2 separate regions of the Homo sapiens genome follow, and region 2 is linked to region 1. The links come from fine-mapping of genetic effects on plasma protein levels. Region 1 holds a variant in brackets. A gene starts in the other region. All regions are shown on their reverse strands.

Region 1 (10,007 bases):
TTTGGTGTCTTGTGTACCACGAAGCCACGAGCCTCCGTGGTAGGGGACCGCCCTCCCCACCCTACCCACAGGGTCCCAGGGTGGGCTCCAGTTCACACCACATGACCACAGACATCGGAGTAGGGATCGGAGCCAATCAGATTCTCCTCTGGAATTAGAAACTATTACGAATTTGGAACCGGAGCTGAGAGACTCCAGCTCGCTCTGGGCTGGGCTCTGTACAGCAGAGGTGCAACATTCCAGAGTTAGGGGAGGCCATTTCCTGCCAGGTGGCCCAGAGCCACGGAGGAGGCAGAGCTGCAAACAGGAGCAGAGACGTGAAGGGAGATAAGCACTGCCCAGGCCACCACAGTCTATCCAGGCCCTAAAAGCCGTGCCCTTGCCCAGCCTTTGCCCAGTGCTTCCTCTGCCTAGCGTACCCTCCCTGCCCTTCTCCTCCAAGTCCTACAGGGCTCAAGAGTTCCATCATGTTTTACAATAAAATCCATACTCCTTCCCCTGGCCCTTGACCCTAGGGCACTCATTCTTGCCACCCTCCTAGCACTCGCTAGGCTCTGGCCACACCAACTGTCTTAGTCTGTTTTCTGTTGCTTATAGCTGAATACCTGAAACTGGGTCATTTATAAAGACAAGAAACATATTTCTTACAGTTATGGAAGCCAAGAGATCCAAGGTCGAGGGGGAGCATCTGCCAAGGCCTTCTTGCTGCTTGGGACTCTCCGCAGAGTCTCATGGCAGCGCAGGGCATCACATAATGAGGAGGCTGAGCATGCAGGCCCAGGTCTTTTTTTTCTCATAAAACCACTAGTTCCCCTCCCATGATAACCCATTCATCCATTAACCCACAAGTGAATTAATCCATTCATGAGGGCAGAGCTCTCATAACCCACCACCTCTTAAAAGCCCCACTTCTCAATCCTGCTACATTGGGGATTACATTTCAACATGAGTTTTGGAGGGGACATACATTCCCACCACAGTGCCAACCCATTTTCCATTATTTGAACAGGCCAACTTATCCCAGCCCCAGGGCCTCTGCACTTGCACTGCTTTTCCCTGGCTGGCTTTTTTGTGTCTTTCAAGTTCCTGGAGAAATGACCCCAGTTCAGTCATTGCCTGACCACCCTGACTAGCATAGGACCTTAGTCACGTCCCTTTTCTTGTTACTTGATTGGCTGCATGTGACCAGCTGGTTTGTCCATCTAAGTCAACCTGTGTCCCCCAAATCCCCACACAGCACCCAGCACATCAAAGGTACTCATCAGCTGTTTGTTGATAAATGACTGAGCTATGAGGCTCTGGCCTCCACTAGTCCCGCTGGAGAGCCACACTGCTGCAGGTAAAAGGAGAAAGGGTGACACTCAACAGGGCCATCACCATTAGCTTGGCCCATGTTCAGAAGTTTCTCCATCAGCGAGCCGGCTCAAGCAAGTCCTCCTAAGGAAACACAAGTCAGTGAAGAACTTGACAAATGGATCCCACGGCTGGTCAAAAGACGGTCACACTCTAAAATATGCACGACCAGATTTCGTGCACCGCTCAAGTTTTATCTTTGACCGTACTTATGGAAACATTATTCAAGAACATCGTGAACACACAAAAATAAATCTTTAAAAATACCATTTGGACGACATACACATACCAATGAAAGATTTTCTCTTTCTACTACAGCAGCCCATTAAGGCGTTTTCAAAGAGCAAATGTGGTAAGTTACTGCACACAGTAACCCGCAAATAAAAACGTACCCAGTTACGACCCACACAGCTTCCTCACAAATCAAAGCCACCCCAATCTCCAAGTCTAGATGGAGCCACCCAACCGGGGGGAACGGGGGAACAGCTCACTGACTCTGTTTCCTTGCTTCCTGCCTTCTGAGGATTTGAAGACAGTGCCCAAAGGAACAGAAAGTCACAACTCTTACTGAGACTCAGATTCCTGTCACAGAATGGCCACAGCCACTACCCCCTGCTTTGATCAGTGAGGGAATCAATGGCTATGCAGTGCCTGCCAGGCGCCAAACACTGAGCAACATTTGCGACACATGATCACATTTAACCCCATGACAACCTATAAAGTACATAGTGTTATTCCTGTGCCTATGTTGACCCGATTGAAGCTCAGAGAGGTTAAGTAATCTGGTCATGGTCACACAGCTAATCCACATCAAGGCTGAGACTCGAATCCCTCGACACCTAGCTCCAAGCCCCTACCCTTCCCACCCACACCAAAGCCATCCCCACTTGCGCACCCCATAGATCATCTCTCCTTGCCCTCGAACCTTTCCCCATGTGGCTGCCATCAGCAAACTGAAGTCAAGGGCCTAACATCTTCCTCTTTTCTGTCTTCCCTAAACACCCACCACATGCTGGGCCTCCAGTGCTCACCGTATGGGAATGGCTTGGCCAGGCTGAGCTGTGCTGATCCATGGCCACCTCCCTCTGCCCCGCCTCGCTTTTCTTCTGCCTCCCCCAAGGGAACTGTTTTCTTCTTTTTTTTTCTTCATCAATTATAAGCCTTCTTGCTTTAGTTTAGTGTGCCTAATTTATCTTGTTACCCACATCTTTTTGTTGATAACCTTGCCAAAAAACAAGAATAATTTAAATATGTTCTTTGTCTTTCTTTTAGTTTATAATCCTACCTTTGTTTCTTTTCATTTGTTCCCTCTGAGCCCTTTCTTCTAGTTATATTTTTATCTCTCCCTAGTTCTTCTGCCTTTCTCGAGGTTTTAAGATCTTAGGGAGAAAATATATACATACGCACATATATATGGCTTAGCCTATATATATATATATATATATATATATATATATATATATATATATATACACGTGCAAACTAAGCTCAGTTTGATCAGCATCAAAATGAAAGTGTTTTGCAACATGATTCGTCATCCTTATTGTTCACTGGTAAAGGTGGAGAAAATGGGTCATGACTTCTAAAACCATAATAAAATACAAAGATCTGGGGATTTGAATACCCAGGTTCAAATTTGGACTTAGAGCCTTCCAGCTGTGTGGGCCTCAGACAAGAATCTCTGTGCTCGAGGTTTTAATCTGTAAAATGGGAATAATCATTCTACTCCCTTCCAAGGTTGTAGAGAGGTCTAAAGGGGCCATGTCTACAAAAGCACTTTTAACCTATAAATAATCTCCGCATAAAGCAGTATGGAATGAGGAAGTGCTACAAGAGTAAGGAGGATCTGAATTGTCTATTGTACATCTCACCTGAATGGCCTGCTCATCCCTTGCTTTCGACACCTTCCTCTGCAAACTGGGCTCCCCCTCTCTGAGTCCCAGTTCCGCAAACGGAACTAGGGGCCTTTTGTCATCCAACACACACACACACAACCACACACACACAGGCGCACATACACACATTTAAAGCTGTGTGTCAACCATTGTAGTGGGTGCTGGGGATTGGACGTTGAACATGGCAGGCAACGTCCTCTCCATCAGGGAATTTATCATTCATTTTGGGTAGGAGAAGGAATAAGGCAAGAAACCATTAAAACAAATAAATAAACAAGGTAATAACTGGGCGAGACCTCTGATTTGCAGGAACAGCCTACATTAAGACCCTAAAGCAGGGGGAAAAGCTTGGCTAATTTGCAGTAAAGAAAAAAGGCACCAGGGCCAGGCACAGCGACTCACGCCTATAATCCCAGCACTTTGGGAGGCCAAGGCGGGCGGATCACGAGGTCAGGAGATTGAGACTATCCTAGCTAACATGGTGAAACCCCATCTCTACCAAAAATACAAAAAATTAGCCGGGTGTGGTGGCGGGCGCCTGTAGTCCCAGCTAGTCTGGAGGCTGAGGCAGGAGAATGGTGTTAACCCGGGAGGCGGAGCTTGCAGTGAGCCGAGATCACGCCACTGCACTCCAGCCTGGGCGACAGAGCGAGACTCCATCTCAAAAAAAAAAAAATTTAAAAAAATGCAACCTTAGCCGGGCGTGGTAGTGCATGCCTGTAATCCCAGCTACTCAGGAGGCTGAGGCAGGAGAATCATTTGAACCCGGGAGGCAGAGGTTGTAGTGAGCCAAGATCACACCACTGCACTCCAGCCTGGGCAACAAGAGCGAAACTCCATCTCAAAAAAAAGAAAGAAAAAAAAAAGGCACCAGAAGGGAATGAGGAAATGAGAGAGTAGGTTCCATGAGATCTGCACACCAGCAGGGCCAGATCTCCCAGGGCCTTCCATGTGGACAGGAGTGGATTTTATTCCAAGGAGGCCTCTGGAGTTAAGCAAGTGAGAGGTATGATTTGGTTTGGGGGCTTTTCGTTTGGTGGTTTGGTTTTTTTTTTTTT[TA/A]ATCATTATTAATCTGGCTACATATGATGCAGAGAATTTGGATTGGAGAGAGTATTGGCAAGTGAAAGTGGACACAAGAAACCAGCTGGTTAACCCGGCAGTGGTTCAAGACAGAGTTAACTGAGGCTTGGAGGGTGGAAATGGGAAGAGGAAAACAGCAAGAATTGATGGTGAGTTTCATGCCGAGGTGTGAAGGAAAGGAGGATACCAAACATCACTCCTGGGGTCTTTGCTGGAGATGGGGGATGGCGAAGGAGGGGTGGGAAAGGTGTTATAGGACAGGAGGGAGGGAAAGGTGACAAGGGGATAATCAAAGAGAGGCTTTAAACTGCCATCGTTTTTCTCACTTACGCTTTCTGTGCGAAACTTGGTTATCATGCCAGTTTGTCCCTACACGCTCCTCAAAATCACCTCTTCCTTCCCATTTCCAATTTACCACCTGACTTCTCAATGGGTCCCTGACTCAGGGGTCTCCCCTCCAATCCATCTGCAGTTCCCACGTCCTCAGGACTTCCTGGAACAATGCACTCTCCTTTATTGTTTAAGAGGTTTGCGCTGGGCTTTCTGTTACTTGCAGATGAAGCCAGATATACCAAGTCCTGGGGTCTAACCCCAGTCAAGGTTCCAACTGTGGGTCCTCTCCTCCCCGAAACACGGTCCCTCCTAGCCATGCCAAATCACCCAGCTTCTGCAACATGCTGCTTGCTCGCTCCTCTAGGCCTCTGCGTGTGTTGGTCCATCTGCCTGGATTCTTCTTTCTCCTCTTCTCCATCCTCGAAATGCCACCCTCCAATTCTCCAGGATCCAATTTCTACTTTTTTAAGTGAGTATAAAAACTAACATTTTTCATCGTTGACACCTTTCCCATGTCCCTCACCCATTCTCCTGGTTCATCTGTATCGTAACTCCTGCCATGTGATGCTATAAAAATTACTGCTTCCTCCCTCTGGATTGCTACCACAATAAGGGCAGCAACTGTGTCTATCTTTTCCGTTTCCCAGGATGCAACACCTAATCTAGTACACAGACATGCACAAGAGTTTGTTGAATGAATGAATATATGTCAGAGTGGGTTAGATTCTAAAATCTTCAAAGTGAAAAGCTTCTGTGGTCAAAATTAATCTTAAAACGTCTGTAAAATATTCATTAAGATATAATGTCCATGAGATATTCTATCAGTCCTGTATAGTAATTCTTATCACCACCAGAATTTGAGAAGAACTGAGTTACACCAAAGAAAGGAATAAACAGAGAGGCTGTGTGACGATGTCTCACATTCAAACCATCCATCTTTAAAGTAATCATCAATCAATGGTGGGCCTGTGTAAGAAAGGGCTGGGAATGGATGGAGACCTCTACAGTGACTCCCATTTGCTAAAGGAGTTTACTTCATTTTTGTTTTAATATTTTGCCCCTAAACTCTTAGCCCCCGGTGTAGCAGGAAAATGTCATCATCATCTTTTACCATCAGGGTCCAATGGATCCTTTCTATGTTTATGAATAAATCTACAGAAGTAAGACTAAAAGGATCGTTTTTTAAAACTTTATTAGAGACGTTAGTAATAGCAAATTTTCACAGCATATTTTCCTGGTTTTGAGTGTAGATAGGCCCAAAATGAGCAATGTCCTCTGCATGCAACTAACTGCTCACCAGCTGTCATGCATAAGCCTGGGACAGACCCATCTTATAAACACCAAGTCCTGATTTCAAGGAAATCTCTGATAAGTTCTAGCTCATCATTACTTCTGGTTCTTCTTCCACTTGCATCATAAAACTTATTACCTTTGAAACCTCTGACAGTTCATAATTTTGTTCAGGAGAAGATGGTCATCTTCTTTTCTCTGTAATTGAAAAGCATTTTTATTTTTAAATTTATAAACACCAATTAGAATGTTTAGTCCAGTGATTTTTTTCTTTCCTTTCCATACCACCTATTTCTTTTCAATCATCTTTGTACTCACCTTTGATCTGACTTCATCATTTGTCCCCTTCAAACTGTATCAAGAAAATTTCAATAAACAAACATAAAAAGTAAAAAAAAAAAAAATTGGCCCCCATTCTTTTAGCAAAACAGGATGCTCCAAGTTTTTGCGGCAAAATATAGTGTGATGAAATCATTCCTGTTGAATGACTAACAGGATGAGAATATCATATTTTTTGTTATCCTTAGAAATATATTGTTTACTCATGAATCCTTAAATCTGAGGAAATTAATCTAGGTTATTATCATGTAGGACTCATAGTCTGAGACTTTGCTTATACACTTCAGTCAGTTTCGCCATTATCGAGTCTTCCATAGTGCTGTCTCTCTGCATTCATCTTCTGATTTGACTAATAACTGTACAACATTTTCCTCTGTCACTTTTCTTCTCTTTACAGTTTGTGCAGAAAAATGAAAAATATAGCTGAATTTACAACTATATTTGATAAAAGTAAGAAGAAGAAGACTACAAAAATGGTATCCTCTGTCTTCTTTTATACTTTCTCGAGAAATGATGTAATACTTCAGGCAATGTGATCAAAAACCTGAAGGATGATACAACAGTGATAATTTGTTTCATTCTTGCATCATCCTTCTAGGTGATTCCATGATTCTCCCATTTCTTATTGGTGTTTTTTTTTTTTTTACCATAATTGGCAATAATTGATGAGTAATGATGAAATAATTTCTAGGGTGATAAAATGGAAGATGTTTAAAGATATAAGAAAATTAAGATCTCTAAGATCCTATGATACATCATCAATTTATAAATTATTTCAATAGTCATATGGTAACTTCAAGATAGAATGAGTTTTATTCTATTTTTGTTAAAAACTAGATGTTATCTTTCATCTTCAGAAGACTTCTGAAAACAAACAAAAGTCATGAAATACCAATCCTTACAAATTGTTAGAATTTCTCAGGAAAAAAAAAAACACCTTCAAAATCTAAAATTGGGTCCGATGGACCCTGATAACATACTGAAAGTTAAATCACATTAATAGATTTGGTCGTTTCCTGGAGCTTTCAAAATGTGGCTCCCTAGAAAACTGCCCCACAAAAAGATTCTTCCTTCAGCCACTTGACATCCAACCATTCTCCAACCAAAGTTAAAACCCACCCAGAGAGAGCTCTATCATACTATTCCAGCACCACAATGCCTGCCTCTGGGCCCAACCAGTACTCTCCATGGAAGCCAGGCAGCCCCTTGCCTGGGATACGTTCTCCTGGAGTTTGTCTCAAGATACAACAAGGAAGAAAAAATTATGACCCATGTAAAACAGAGAGGCCTTCTGGAATACCATTCAGGCTTCAGAGAAAGGCGTTAACAAAACTCAGACTACAGTCAGATGCCCAGTGTTTACTACTTTATATTCCTTCCAGTAAATGGGTTTATTGTGTTCCTACTCTCTTGGGGGTTTTTTTAATGCTTTTTTTTCTTTTGTATTTCCAGTCAATCCATGAATGGTTTGACTATTGATCTGTGACAGAGAGGAAATGCCCAATTCACAAAAGCGTTGTGTTCCCACACTTCCAAAGTTGGTTGTTTGGGGAACTCAGAATATATTTTCTTCCAAGAAACAATATTATACATGATAGGTTTACAGGCCAGCACCACAAAATCCTTCTTAACTCATTGTGTTGTTGGGCACTGCACTTTTATGGTATAAATTAGTAGAATATAATTTGGTTATAGTATTAAGAATAAACAAACCCAAATATTGAAGATATAATCTCCTTTATCCTGAATTATATTTAATGAAATAACCAGTTTAATGAAAAAAAGATAAGAGCAAAGATAGAGGCTTTTTTTTTTTTGAGACAGGGTCTTGCTCTGTCACCCAGGCTGGAGTACAGTGGTGCAATCATAGCTCACTGCAGCCTCAACCTCCTGGACTCAAGCCATTCTCCCAGAACCTCAGTCTCCCGAGTAGCTGCGATTACAAGCACATACCACCACGTCTGGCTAATGTTTGTATTTTCTGTAGAGACGGGGTCTTGCCATGTTGCCCAGGTTGGTCTCGAATTCCCGGGCTCAAGCGATCTACCTACCTCAGCCTCCCAAAGTGCTGGGAGATGGAGGCTTTTTAGGGAGAGACCTCTGCTTGCAAGATAATTTGGGAGGCCTGATAGCAGCAGTTTGTTATTTTTTTCTGTCCGGTTTCACCTTGATACCTTTTTTCATTTTCCTTCATACAGGTATGATGCACAGGAGCCAGGATTAGGGTAAATTTGAGACTCACAAAGGAAAACAGCAACGGATAGGGGAGCAAGAGGGAAAATAAGTGTGAAAGAGATCTCTTTGATGGGGGGATTAAGGCATGTTATTGCGAGGAGATTGGCTAAATCTGCATTAATTGATTTGCTAAGAAAAGGAAAGGAAACTGGGGAGAAGGCTGGAGACCCAATATCAGAACTTTCCAGGCAGGCAGAGTCGTGAGGACTGTGTAGCCAGACAGTTCCCTCTCTGACCATAAGGTGGTGCCATCAGCCCAGACAGTCGGCCCCAAGGGGGCGGGGCGTGCAGTGGGTGGAGCTCCCCACGTGTAAGCCATGTTCTCCACTCAGGTTCCGGAACTCAGAAAGCCTGGACCAGGCAGCACGTGTCAACTTGCACATCACTGACTCAGCACCCACGAACTATGCCCATCCGCTAAAGCCCCTTCGGCTCACACTCGAGCAAGAACACGTCTGTCTTGCTGGGCATCGAGACGCACGTGAAGATTCCAACTAATTCCTTCCCACTCCTCTGCTCTTTCTCCACAATGGCAGCTCTGGGCCCCTGAGCATTTCCTAATTCCTAAAGAGAACCTAGTCTAAAGCGCCCTACAGTCTCATCCTTAAATACCGTCAGATCTTCCGTGAGGAGCACAGATTTGTCACAAGGAGCCCAGCCTTCACAACATGCCCTGGCCGACTTCCCCAGTTTGATGTCCCACTTTCACACCTAACTGGGCAACCCCTATTCCTGATACAAATCCCACCGGATCCTCTCCATGCATTTAGCCCTGCTGGTCCTCCCACCTCCCATGCCCACTTTTTTCCTTGCCTCTACTTGTCACTATCCTCCCCCATCCTTCATGGTCTAACCCAAATATCCCCTCCCCCAAAACCTGCCACTCAGTGTTGACCGCATGTAACTAGCAAAGTGGATTTAGACAGGAAAACATGGGCTCCAGGCGTCAACCACAGAAGGCCCTGGATGACACAAGGTAGGTCATGTCTGCCTCTTCCTGGCTGTGTATGCGTTAAATTGAGGAGGAGGGCCCATCCAGACAGGTGCTGCTGAACCTCAGGACAGCAGCTGGTCCATCCAGGAGACCTCCCAGGCCTCAGTTCCCATCTAGGGAGGGCCCTAGGTCTGGAGGGACACCAAAGGCATGAGTGTGGTGTGTGGTGCGGTGTCATGTTAGCTATATAATAGTAATAATGATTATTATTACTGTCCCCTGCCCCACCCTCATCAGCCACAGTCTGCCAAACTTGGCCTCAGTTATAAAGCTAAAGGAATCAGCCAGAGAGAGGGGGAGTCAATCACAACAAAGTCACCAGTCTGAGCCCCCATCCCACTTCTACCCCTGCGGCCTAGACTGGCCATTTCAGCAAACTGCCTAGTGATTCTGCAAGGGAATTTTCACAGCCTTGGCGGGTCGGACTCAGATGGGCATTCTTATCTGGATGCTTTGGACTTGGCTAAGTGGCCCAGAGATAAACCCTT
Region 2 (10,007 bases), not on the chromosome of region 1:
ATGCCCCCGCTTTCGCTGGCATGCCTGGCGCAGGTGCCTGCAGCGCCGCGCAGCAGCCCGCAGGTCCCCCACCTACGCTCCGCCCCCGCAGACGGGGCGGCAGCCTCGCAGGGTCTGCGGGTTAGAGGGCGGCTCAGGTTTCGGCCTGGGAAGAGGGTGTCCCGGGTGGGGGCCCGGCGCACCCCCTACTCTGGCCTGCGGCCGCGCTTTCATCTCAGCGGCCCCCGGCCGGCCCCCACGTGGCTTAATCAGGCGCGGCTGTGCCTGGCGGACCCCGAACATCTGGATCCCGGTGCGGCCCCTCCCCCGCCCCGCCCCGCCCCTCCCCTCCCCTCCCATGCTAGGCCGCTGCGACCCGGCGGCGAGGGCCTCCAGCCCGCAGTTTGCGCCAGAATCCAGCAGGAGAATTCCGCTTCTAACCCACCCGCGCGCCAGGCCCGCACCTTGGGAAACAGCCCTGTGCGTTATGACCAATACTGTCCCCCATTTCACAGGTGGGAAACTTAGGCTCCGGGACGCGTTGGCAAAGTCAGGATTCAAGCCCACACATGCTAATTCCAGAGGCCCGCGCGCGCCTAACCCCTCCACAATTACTGTCTTTCATTCATTCCAACGAAACACTTTTTCTTGCAACAACCGTATAAGACAGGTACCGGTAGCGTTGCCCTTTTATATGGGTGAGGAAACTGATGCTCAGACTGCAAAGTGGTTCTGTCCAGGTGACAGGGAGAGAAGCAAAGAAAAGCCGGCAGAGCCCTGCCAATGATGGGAGGTGACCTTTGGGCATTGCTTAAAACGCATCAGGGAGGAGGGACACCCCGCGCCCTTTTGCAGAAGGAGAAACTGAGGCTGGAGGAGTGGGTCGATCACCCAGGTCGCCTGAGGGGAGAAGGGAAAGAGGCTGATTGCCGCACACCCAGCCCCCTTTCCGCTGCACTAGGCCGCTGGGGGGGTGAGCGGAAAGAGGACTTGACCCCGGCCCCCAAGGTGAGCCCCCGCGCCCCTCCTGCTGTTCCCGGGGGAGCCGGTCCAGGTGAGGGGCGGGAGGGCCGGCGGGCGGCCAGGGTCGGGTTTCAGGAAATCCGCCGACATTCCTTCGGGGCTTAAGAGGGAAAGTTGACTCGGCGCCGCCCTCGCCCCCCCCCCCACTTCCTACCCCCCGGGGCGGCCTGGCTGGGGGCGGCAGGCGGGGGGCGCTGAGGCCGGCCTGGGCGTGAATCAGCGGCAGGCCAGGCGTCCGGGAAGCCACAGCAGCCGAGGTCAAGGCGGGCAGCGGACAAGCACCCTTTGTCCCTTGCCGCCCTCACCACGACCCTGCTGACCCCCACCTCCAAGCAGGGTACAGGCCAGGGAGGAGGCAGAGCACCATGGCGCCGGTGGTGGTTGCTGAGGGTTGTTGGGGGAGGACGGAGGGATGTGGCTGTCCCCCTAAAGCAGCTGGTGCCTCCTGGGACCCAGACTTCAGAGGCTTCTCAGGGTACAGACGGGCAGGGAAACTGGCCTCCCTGGGGCAGGCCTGCAACTTCCCAGGCAGGTCCCCTAGGCAGGTCTGCAACTCCCCAGGTCCCGCCTCCAGTGCCTGAAGTCCAGTGTGCATTACACTGAGCACCCAGGCATTGCTTCTCCCCAGGCTCAGCCTCCAGGGCAGAAATTATAAAGCCTAGGTACACACGGGCCCCACTTTCCTGTGCCACAGACCCTGAACCAGGTGTCCAGACCCTCACTGCCCCTTAATTCCTGAAAGCACCTGCCTGGAACACCAGGTAGCTAATCCCATACTGGGGAGCCCTGAGCACGGGGCTTTCAGAATGGGAGAGACAGCTCTCAGCCTTCCTCACTCCCAGTGGTTGTGGGTCCCCACAGGACCCTGAAGGTGCCATTTCCACTGCCCCCTCCCTGGTGCACCCTCAGTGCCCTGGAATCACGAGGGAGCTGGGGATGGAGGCCCCCCCCCCAACCTAATACCTCTCATCCAGAGGTGACCTTGGAGTGGAGGGTGCAGGACTAAGGAGGGGTCCCTCCCCCAGCCCAAGGGGAGGCCCTCCCTCTGCCCAAGGGGAGGCCCTCCCTCCTTCTGCCCCTTACACATTCCCAGCCAACTTCAAGGACTTGGGTCAATATTTGCCAGAAGTTCCATTGACGCTAGCTCCCTTTTGTCCTCAAGGAGATAATGGAACTGGGGAGTAAAGGGTTAAACTTCTGGGGGCCCTAAGGGCCGGGAAGGATGCACTCTGGGGTCAATTCCCTTTCCCTGAAGTCAAAGGTGTGGGGTAAAGATCACCCAAGGGCAGAAGTCACACTCCAGGGTGGGGCTGGGCAGGATTGGAAAATGGTCCTTCCCTTCTGTTGGTAAGAACAAGAGAGGGATGTCTACTGGCTAGGGTCACACAGCAAGACACAGAGTGTGGGCCAGGCTAGGACCCCAGGCAGCATGACTTGCTAGGACTGAGTTTTCTTGCTACTTGGAGGGAGTAAGAGTTCTCCATCCTTTACTTTTACAAATATTTAGTGAGTGCTTCGCTTTCAGCCCTCACTGGGCCCACCACTGGGGTCCAAAGGGGCTGAGGCTGCCCACAGTCTAAAGAAAATCAGTTGCACAAGAAATGAAATGGTTGGAAGAGTTGTGTTTCAAAAACAATAAAACAAAGTGAAGGAGAGGGAGAGTGCTGGGGGAAGGGTGGAGGGCCTCTCTGAGGAGGTGGCACTAATCCTGTGAAGTGATGGAAGAGAAAGGGCCAACTGGGGAAGATGTGGGGAACAGCATTCCAGCAGAGGGAACAGCCAACACGCAGAGGCCCTTCTATAGTAACAAGCCTGGTATGTTTTGGGAAACAGGGCTCCAGTGGCTGGGGCGGAATGAGGGAGAGGAGGGGGAAGAGGAGAGGGAAGAAGAGGAGGGGAGAGGATGGCGAGAGGGTGGCAGGACAAAGATCTGCTTTTTCTTCTTTTAAAAGCTCCCTCTGCCTGGTGTGCCGAGAAAGGCAGAAGGGTTATCAGGGAGGCCCTGGAGGAGGCCGGGAAGCATCCCTGAGGGAGACCGTGGGGCCTGGATCTGAATGGGGTGGGAAAAAGGGGTCAGCATCTCAGAATGGAGATGTGTTTTAGAATCAGAGCCAACAGGATTTGCTGATGAATTGGACATGAGGGATGAGCAAAGGAGAGAGTTGTCACGTGCGCTTCCAGGTCTCTGGCCTGAGCACCTGGATGGATGGGAGAGCCCTTTCCCAAAACCAAAATGACTGGAAGAGAAGCAGAAATGGAGGGAGGAAAAAATCAAGGTTTTGCTCCAGAAGCCTGAAGTCCTCCCAGGAGGGAGTGAGGCGTCTCTATCCACACAGAGAGCATCTGCAGACAGGAGCCATGGGGGAGTAGTGGTGAGTATCCTAAAAACTCAATTCCAGCCAAGGACTGCCACCTCCACTTAACCCTCTGGGTCCCCTGGCAGGTGGGACTATGGCTCCATGTTTCAGAGGGGACAAGCAGGGCTGGGGGTCACCTCTGCTCCAGGATATCCTCCAGTGCTGTGCTAAGGGCTTGGATTGTAGAGACTTCTGCTGCCCTGCGTCTTCCCACAGAAGCTCCTAGACTGGGTGGTGCCCACTGTGCAGAGGAAGAAACTGAGGCACAAAAGGCCTGGTTTCCCGAAGTAAATGGCAGCGTCTCTCCTTGTCTGTCTTCTCCATCCAGAATTCAGATGGAGCAGGGGCGCCCTGGGCCCCTATAGGCTCCCATCCCCCAATCTTGTTTTTTGACAGTCTGGAGTCTGAACTGGAGATTTAAGTAGGAGAGGGTGGGGCTTCAGTCTTGGGCAGACAAATGGGGGCTCCTGAGCCCCCCTCAGACACTTTTACCCCCTTGGCTGGTTGGGGACCAGGAGAGAGAATCCAGGCCTCTAAGGGACTCCTGGAAAAGGGGACTTGGAGCCGTTCCCTTCCCTGGGCGCTGCAGCTGGGGGCGGGGCTGCGACCAAAAGTGGGTAATTGCACCCCCCAACTCTCATTTCAGGCACCCCCATCCGCAGCAGCCTTGGAGGCCAGGAACCCTTTATTCCTGGGCGCCCGCATCGGGTGGGGACCGGGAGGAGGGAGATGAGACGCCCGGACCGGGAGGGGTCCCGAAACTCGAGCAATGGCCAAAAATAATAACACGGAGAAGGCTCTTTGCGCAAAAGAAGGAAGACAAACTATGCGTCGCTCCGGGCAGCCGGCGTTACCTGGAGTCGGCGGGCGGTGGCCGCCGAAGCGATTACTCACCGCGTGGCGCACCCCACCCGCGGGCCGCTGAGTGGATTTTTCCGTGGCGGGGTGTGAATAGGTCCCGGGGAAAGAGCTTCTTACCGCTCTCCTCCTGGGAATCCCTCTTACTGCGGTGCGGGACCCAGTTCCCGCGCAGGCCTGGGTCCCGGCTCCCACAGGGGACTACATCTCCCCGTCTGCCCACGCAGGAGCTCCCTCCCGAGGCCCCCGGGGCGCCCAGAGCAACCTCAAACCCATCCCGCGCGCGAAGGGGACAGCGCAGCCAGGGCGAAGGCGAGGGACTCCGTGCCTTCCTGCTTTTTCTCCTTTCTTCCAGCAAAGCCTGGGGCCGAGGCTACTCGCGGAGAATCGAAAAGAGGCAGGATGAGGTGGGAGGGCTGGAACCCGCGCGCCGAGGGCGTGGGGCTGGGGGTGACTTTTAGGCCCCTGGGAAGGCTGAGGGGCTGGAGATGGGGGTAGGCGGGACTCAAGGACCGCTCGGTGGGGGGGGCGGGGCCAGAGCTGGGGTGGGGGCCGAGACAGAAGATTGGGCCGTGGAAGGGGGAATGGAGGAGTGGGGCAGGGTTGGGGACCAAAGGGGCCACTGAAGAGGCACTGGGCTGAGAGGAGGGTGCAGGGAAGTGGGCAGGGTTATGGAAACGGGATTGGGGGTGCCGGGTCCCAGACTGGGGGTGGGAAGCCTGGAGCTGGCAGGGTTGGAGAGGGAGGTCCTGGGCCGGTAGGGGTTGAGTTAGGGGGCTTTGGGCCGCGGGATAGGGCGCGCGCGGTTCTCGGTGGGGCGGAGGCGGGACGGGCGGGGCGCGCGGTGCCCGCGGGCGGGCGGGCGGCGGGGAGGCCGGTGCGGGGCCCGCCGCCCCCCCGGGGCCGGGCCGGGCCGGGGGCGGGGCCGGGCGGGGCCAGCGGCGCATTAGCGCCTTGTCAATTCGGCTGCTCAGACTTGCTCCGGCCTCCGCGTCCGCGCCCAGCGACGTGCGGGCGGCCTGGCCCGCGCCCTCCCGCGCCCGGCCTGCGTCCCGCGCCCTGCGCCACCGCCGCCGAGCCGCAGCCCGCCGCGCGCCCCCGGCAGCGCCGGCCCCATGCCCGCCGGCCGCCGGGGCCCCGCCGCCCAATCCGCGCGGCGGCCGCCGCCGTTGCTGCCCCTGCTGCTGCTGCTCTGCGTCCTCGGGGCGCCGCGAGCCGGATCAGGAGCCCGTGAGTACCCGGCGCCCCACTCCTTCCCCCCTGCCAGAGCAGAGGGCGGGCGCCCCGGGGGCAGCCGCGGGGGGAGGGGGCGCGGGCGCCACCTGGACGGCCGGGGAACAAAGGAAGGCGCCCCCGGCGCAGCCCTCGGGGCGCCCTCACCTGCGGGGCACACGGCGCCGCAGTCCACTGTCCAGAGAGTCCTGCTTCCGCGCCCGAGGCCCTGTTACCTGGGCAGCTGGGCCGAGGGCGCCAGGCCAGGCCCCCGGGGGCTGGGGGGATCGCGGCCTGAGACCCTCTGCATGCCAGGACGTGGCGGGCGCACGCGTCTGCTTCGGTGGACTCTGGGCCCCTGGGACTGCAGGGCACCGCTCCCAGGCGGGGGCGCACGCGGTTGGCGCGCTGGGTGCGGGCCCCCAGCGGGCCCCCCCAGGCGGAGGGATGAGCCCCACGGGGAGGGCGGGGCTGCAGGGGGGCCGCTCTGGCCGCCTGGCGCGCAGCCCGGGGTCCCGGGGGACTTGTGTCTCCACGGGCCGGCGCCACCGCCCTCCCCCTGCGGGACCCGGCGCACGGGGGTCCGCGGAGTCCCCGCCACCGGCGGCGCTTAGAACCGTTTTCAGCCAGGCTGCGTCGGGCGGAGAGCCTCCAGCGAGAGGAATCTTTGTGAGCGAGTGGGTGAGAGGGAGAGGGAGCGGGAGCCAGTGAGTCCGGGCACCAGCGGGCCCAAACTTTGAGGGGGCCCACTGGGAACCCGCTGCCCTACGGGCCAAGACCCCTGCCCTGGAGGGACTTCTGGCCTCAGGCACTCTGGGGCCCCCCATCCAAGGAACACCCCCGCAAGGATACGTCTCCGTATGCAGACCCGCTCTGGGACACACCCAGAGACACACAAAGAATCACACTGGCTTGTGGCCCGTCACCCTCGCCCTCAAACTCGCGCACACTGCATCCCAGGTGCACATTCGCGCACCATCGCGGACGCACACACATTCCATCCCCGACACACACATTCACGGTCACACACATCCCACAGGGGAGGCGACCCAGGGGCACAGAGGCAGGCACCACTCGCCCCAGATGTTCAGTCACTCCACGCACCCCATCCAGGCGCACGGGCCACCCCGGGGGTCGCCGGGCACACACTGCTCCCAGGCTCATCCACCCTGTGCTGGGCTGTTTGCGGGCTGCCTGTAGGGCTCCTCCGGGAAGGGGCAGGGTCCGGGCATCTTCTAGGGGCACTTGCTGAAAGCCTGGCTCTCCCCTGGCTTTCAGGTGAGGGGCTACCTCGGGCCCTCCCAGGGCCCCTGACGGCTCTGCCAGGCGGTGGGCAGCGCCTGTGAGTGCCACTGTGAGCGCCAAGCTTTGTTTTCAGCCAGTAGAGCAGCAGGCGAAGGTGTAGGGGGTGGGGGGGCACTGTAAGTGTGTTTTTTCCTTTAAGGGGGGAAGAAATTAAATAAAAGATTCTCACACCTCGGCAATATGTTTCTACTTACGGTGTGTCTTAGCACCTGACCAGCAGGCGGGTGGGTCGTAAAGTGTCTGCAGGTACCAGCGGGACGGGAGATGGGGACCCCCGTGGGGACCCTGGGATGGAGGCCACCCTTCCGCCCTGCTTGCAGAGAATCTCACACTTTTCCCTTTTAAAACACATGGTGTTCCTTTTTAATAACGGCAGTGGCTCCAGATTGGGAAAAGAGGAGAGAAAAAACTTTTAAAGGCCCCAGCTCTGCGGGAAAGGAGGGGAGGCAGGGAGTGAAAAGGGAGCTGTTCAAAAGCCCAACCTAGGGATCTGCTTTGGGGAGCCCTAGGAGGCCCTCCAAACCAAGCCAAGCCCCCACCAACTCCGGCTCAGTGGGCTGTTCCCAGCTGCTCCCCTGCCTGGCCTGGAGTGCGTGCATCTCTGTCCCCAGCGCCTTAGCCCATTGTTTGTGGAGGCCTGGAGGGAGTGCCTAGTCAGCCGGGACCCCAGAGCTGGGAGGGGCTGTCATCTTTGCAGCTCCTGGGGGCTTCAGGCTTCTGAGCCCTCTGGACATTGGATTGCAATCACATCTCATTGATCTCCCCAGCAAGTAGAACGTATTTCTCCTCCCATTTTATGGAGGAGAAAATTGAGAACTGGAGAGGGGAAGTCAATTGGCCAGGTTCTCCCACTGGTGTTGCGCCCATATCCCGGGAGGAGAAAGTGTCCTTCTGACCTTACCGGCTGGGGCTAAGGGGGTGGGAGATTGGTCTGTCCAGGCCCGCCTGGCCTTGCCTTCCCCCTACAACCCGTCGCCGCCCGGTGTCCCCCGCCCAGCCCCGGGAGGGCAGCTGCAGCTGCTGGCAAGTGAGCCACGCCGGCCCAGGCCAGGCGGGTGTGGCAGAGGGGCAGCGCCCCCCAGCCAGGACCCCCCAGAGAGCCCCTTCCTGCCCAGGCCAAGCTGGCGGGTGGTGGGGGCAGGAGGAGTGAGACCCACTCTAGAAGGGCTGAGAGGGGCCTGGGGTCTGGGCAGGCCTGGCCGTGCCTCCCACTCTGTTGGGGGGGCCCAGGCAGGAAGCGGTGGGTGGGCCGGGGCAGAGACGCTGGCACACCCGAGTTCATGCAAAAGGAATTCCGAATTAGCGGGCGGCTGGCTGCCTGGGACCTCCAGGGCGGTCCCCTGGCCCCCAGCCCCCCGCCCCCCTCGGCCGCCCCCGCCTCCTCGGCTCTGGCCCGCTCAGCCGGCTCCTTCGCACGGACGCGGAGACCTCCGGCGAGCCCTGGGCCAAGCCCCAAGCGCAACTGCGATTCCAGGCTCCAGCGAGACAGAGCCCTCGAGCCAAGTTTGCCCCGGAAAATCATCAGGGCCGGCCCAAGAACCGTGTCCACCCCACCTCGCCCATCTGGGGCAGTGAGGGCAAGTGCAGGGCAGCGCTGGCATTCAGGGGGCCTCCCTGGGGGCCAGGATCACCCTGTCCTTGGCTGCCATCTCTGCGAAGCTGGGCTGCCCCTGCCTCCTGCAGTCCCTTCTTCCAGCCGCCTGGGGAGTCCTTTTAACGCATATCTCACCGCATCCCTCCCTCCCCGGCTGAGAACCCTGGAATCCCTCCTCCCTGCAGGTCAGGGTCTCTGACCTCTCAAACCTCATTTCCCACCGCTTCTGCCCCAGGACCTTGGCACTTGCAGCTCCCACTGCCTGGACATGCTCTGTTAGATAATGTCACAGCTACTTCTCTTACTTTATTCAGGTCTCTGCTCAAAGGTCACCTCCCCAGACAGGCCTCCCAAGCTTCTGCCGCTGCTCTGTCTTCCTCCAGCCCCTGCTTTACTTTCTCCCCTAGTTATTGTCTTAGATATTTATTTATTCCTTTTTCCTGCTGCTTCCTTGGATTTGATGCCCACAAGGGCAGGACTTTTGTGTGTCTTGGGCATCACCCCAGTGCCCACAGATCCGGACACACTATAGGTACCCTGTGAATGAATAGATGAACGCGTGAACGAACAAAGGCGTGGATGAGTCTTTACAACCACTCTGTGTGGAACGAGAAGCCCCTTTCCAGAGGCTCAAAGAAGTAAAACACTGAGGCCGGGTGCAGTGGCTCACGCCTGTCATCCCAGCACTTTGGGAGGCCAAGGCGGGTGGATCACTGGAGGTCAAGAGTTCGAGACCAGCCTGGCCAACATGGCGAAACTCCGTCTCTCCTAAAAATACAAAAATTAGCTGGGTGTGGAGGTTATGGTGAGCCGAGATTGTGCCACTGCACTCCAGCCTGGGTGACAGAGTGAGACTCTGTCTCAAAAAAAAAAAAAAGTAGAACACTGAGTCAGGCTGGGGGCATTCGAGTCCAGGTCAACTTGGTTTAAAGATCTCATGGGAAAATATTGTCTCCAACAATATTTTCACTCCTCTCAAACAACCTCATGAGGTTTGTTTTGTTGGTTTTTATAAATTTAAATCTAAATTTTTTATTTCTTTTTTGAGACAGGGTCTCACTGTCACCCAGGCTGGAGTGCAGTGGTGCAGTCATGGCTCACTGCAGCCTCAACTTCCCGGGCTCCAGCGATCCTCCTGCCTCAGCCTCCCAAGTAGCTAAGACCACAGGCATGGGGCCACCACCCCCTCCCCACCTGGCTAATTTTTGTATTTTTGGTAGAGACAGGGTTTCACCATGTTGCCCAGGCTGTCTCAAACTCTTGACCTCACGTGATCCTCCCACCTCAGCCTCTCAAAGTGCTGGGATTACAGGCATGAGCCACCGCACCCAGCCAACCCCATGACATTGACGCCATGATGTCCACTTTCCAGATGGGGAAACTGAGACTCAGAGAGGCATTGGGAGGTTGGCCTGTGCACCCCCTCCTCCTCTGGGCCTTGGTTTCCCTATGGACAAGGTTCTGGTCTCCAGAAGGGGAACTCCTGGGCTGCCCTGATGGCCAGCAGGAGAGAGAGGCATCAACCACCCATGGGCGTCCCCAAGTTTCCTGTGCCTAGTACCTGACTCACACACAACCTGGTTCAGGAAGTCCTTTCCCCTCTGACTTTCACAATACCCCAGGAGACAAAGAGCTTTCTCGTTCTCACTTTGCAGATGAGGAAAACTGAGTGGAGGGAA

Alleles and levels. Positions count from the first base shown, and alleles are read on the strand shown. Strength reflects both the effect of a copy and how common the allele is.
In carriers of allele TA in region 1, the plasma level of the protein whose gene starts at base 5,190 in region 2 tends to be lower than with A alone (weak association).

Evidence for each region. PIP is the posterior inclusion probability: the model's chance that the variant is causal. Protein levels are from antibody-based Olink assays in UK Biobank. Linkage for the fine-mapping came from a reference panel and not from the study's own genotypes, which makes the PIPs less certain.
Region 2: CRLF1 starts here. The variant in region 1 is fine-mapped to the plasma level of the CRLF1 protein (UK Biobank, PIP above 0.99).

The regions. Positions count from the first base shown.
Region 1 is chr5:173,330,952-173,340,958 of GRCh38, reverse strand. LOC124901137 (a long non-coding RNA gene) reads right to left here. Exons shown (of 2, transcript XR_007059056.1): 2 at 5,837-6,149. Among named protein-coding and RNA genes, the nearest start is that of STC2, 7.5 kb to the right of the region's middle. RefSeq lists an enhancer at 8,876-9,015. The variant TA/A (reference allele first, on the strand shown) is at 4,307.
Region 2 is chr19:18,601,982-18,611,988 of GRCh38, reverse strand. CRLF1 (cytokine receptor like factor 1) reads left to right here and starts at 5,190. Exons shown (of 9, transcript NM_004750.5): 1 at 5,190-5,447. The coding sequence starts at 5,333. RefSeq lists an enhancer at 5,150-6,068.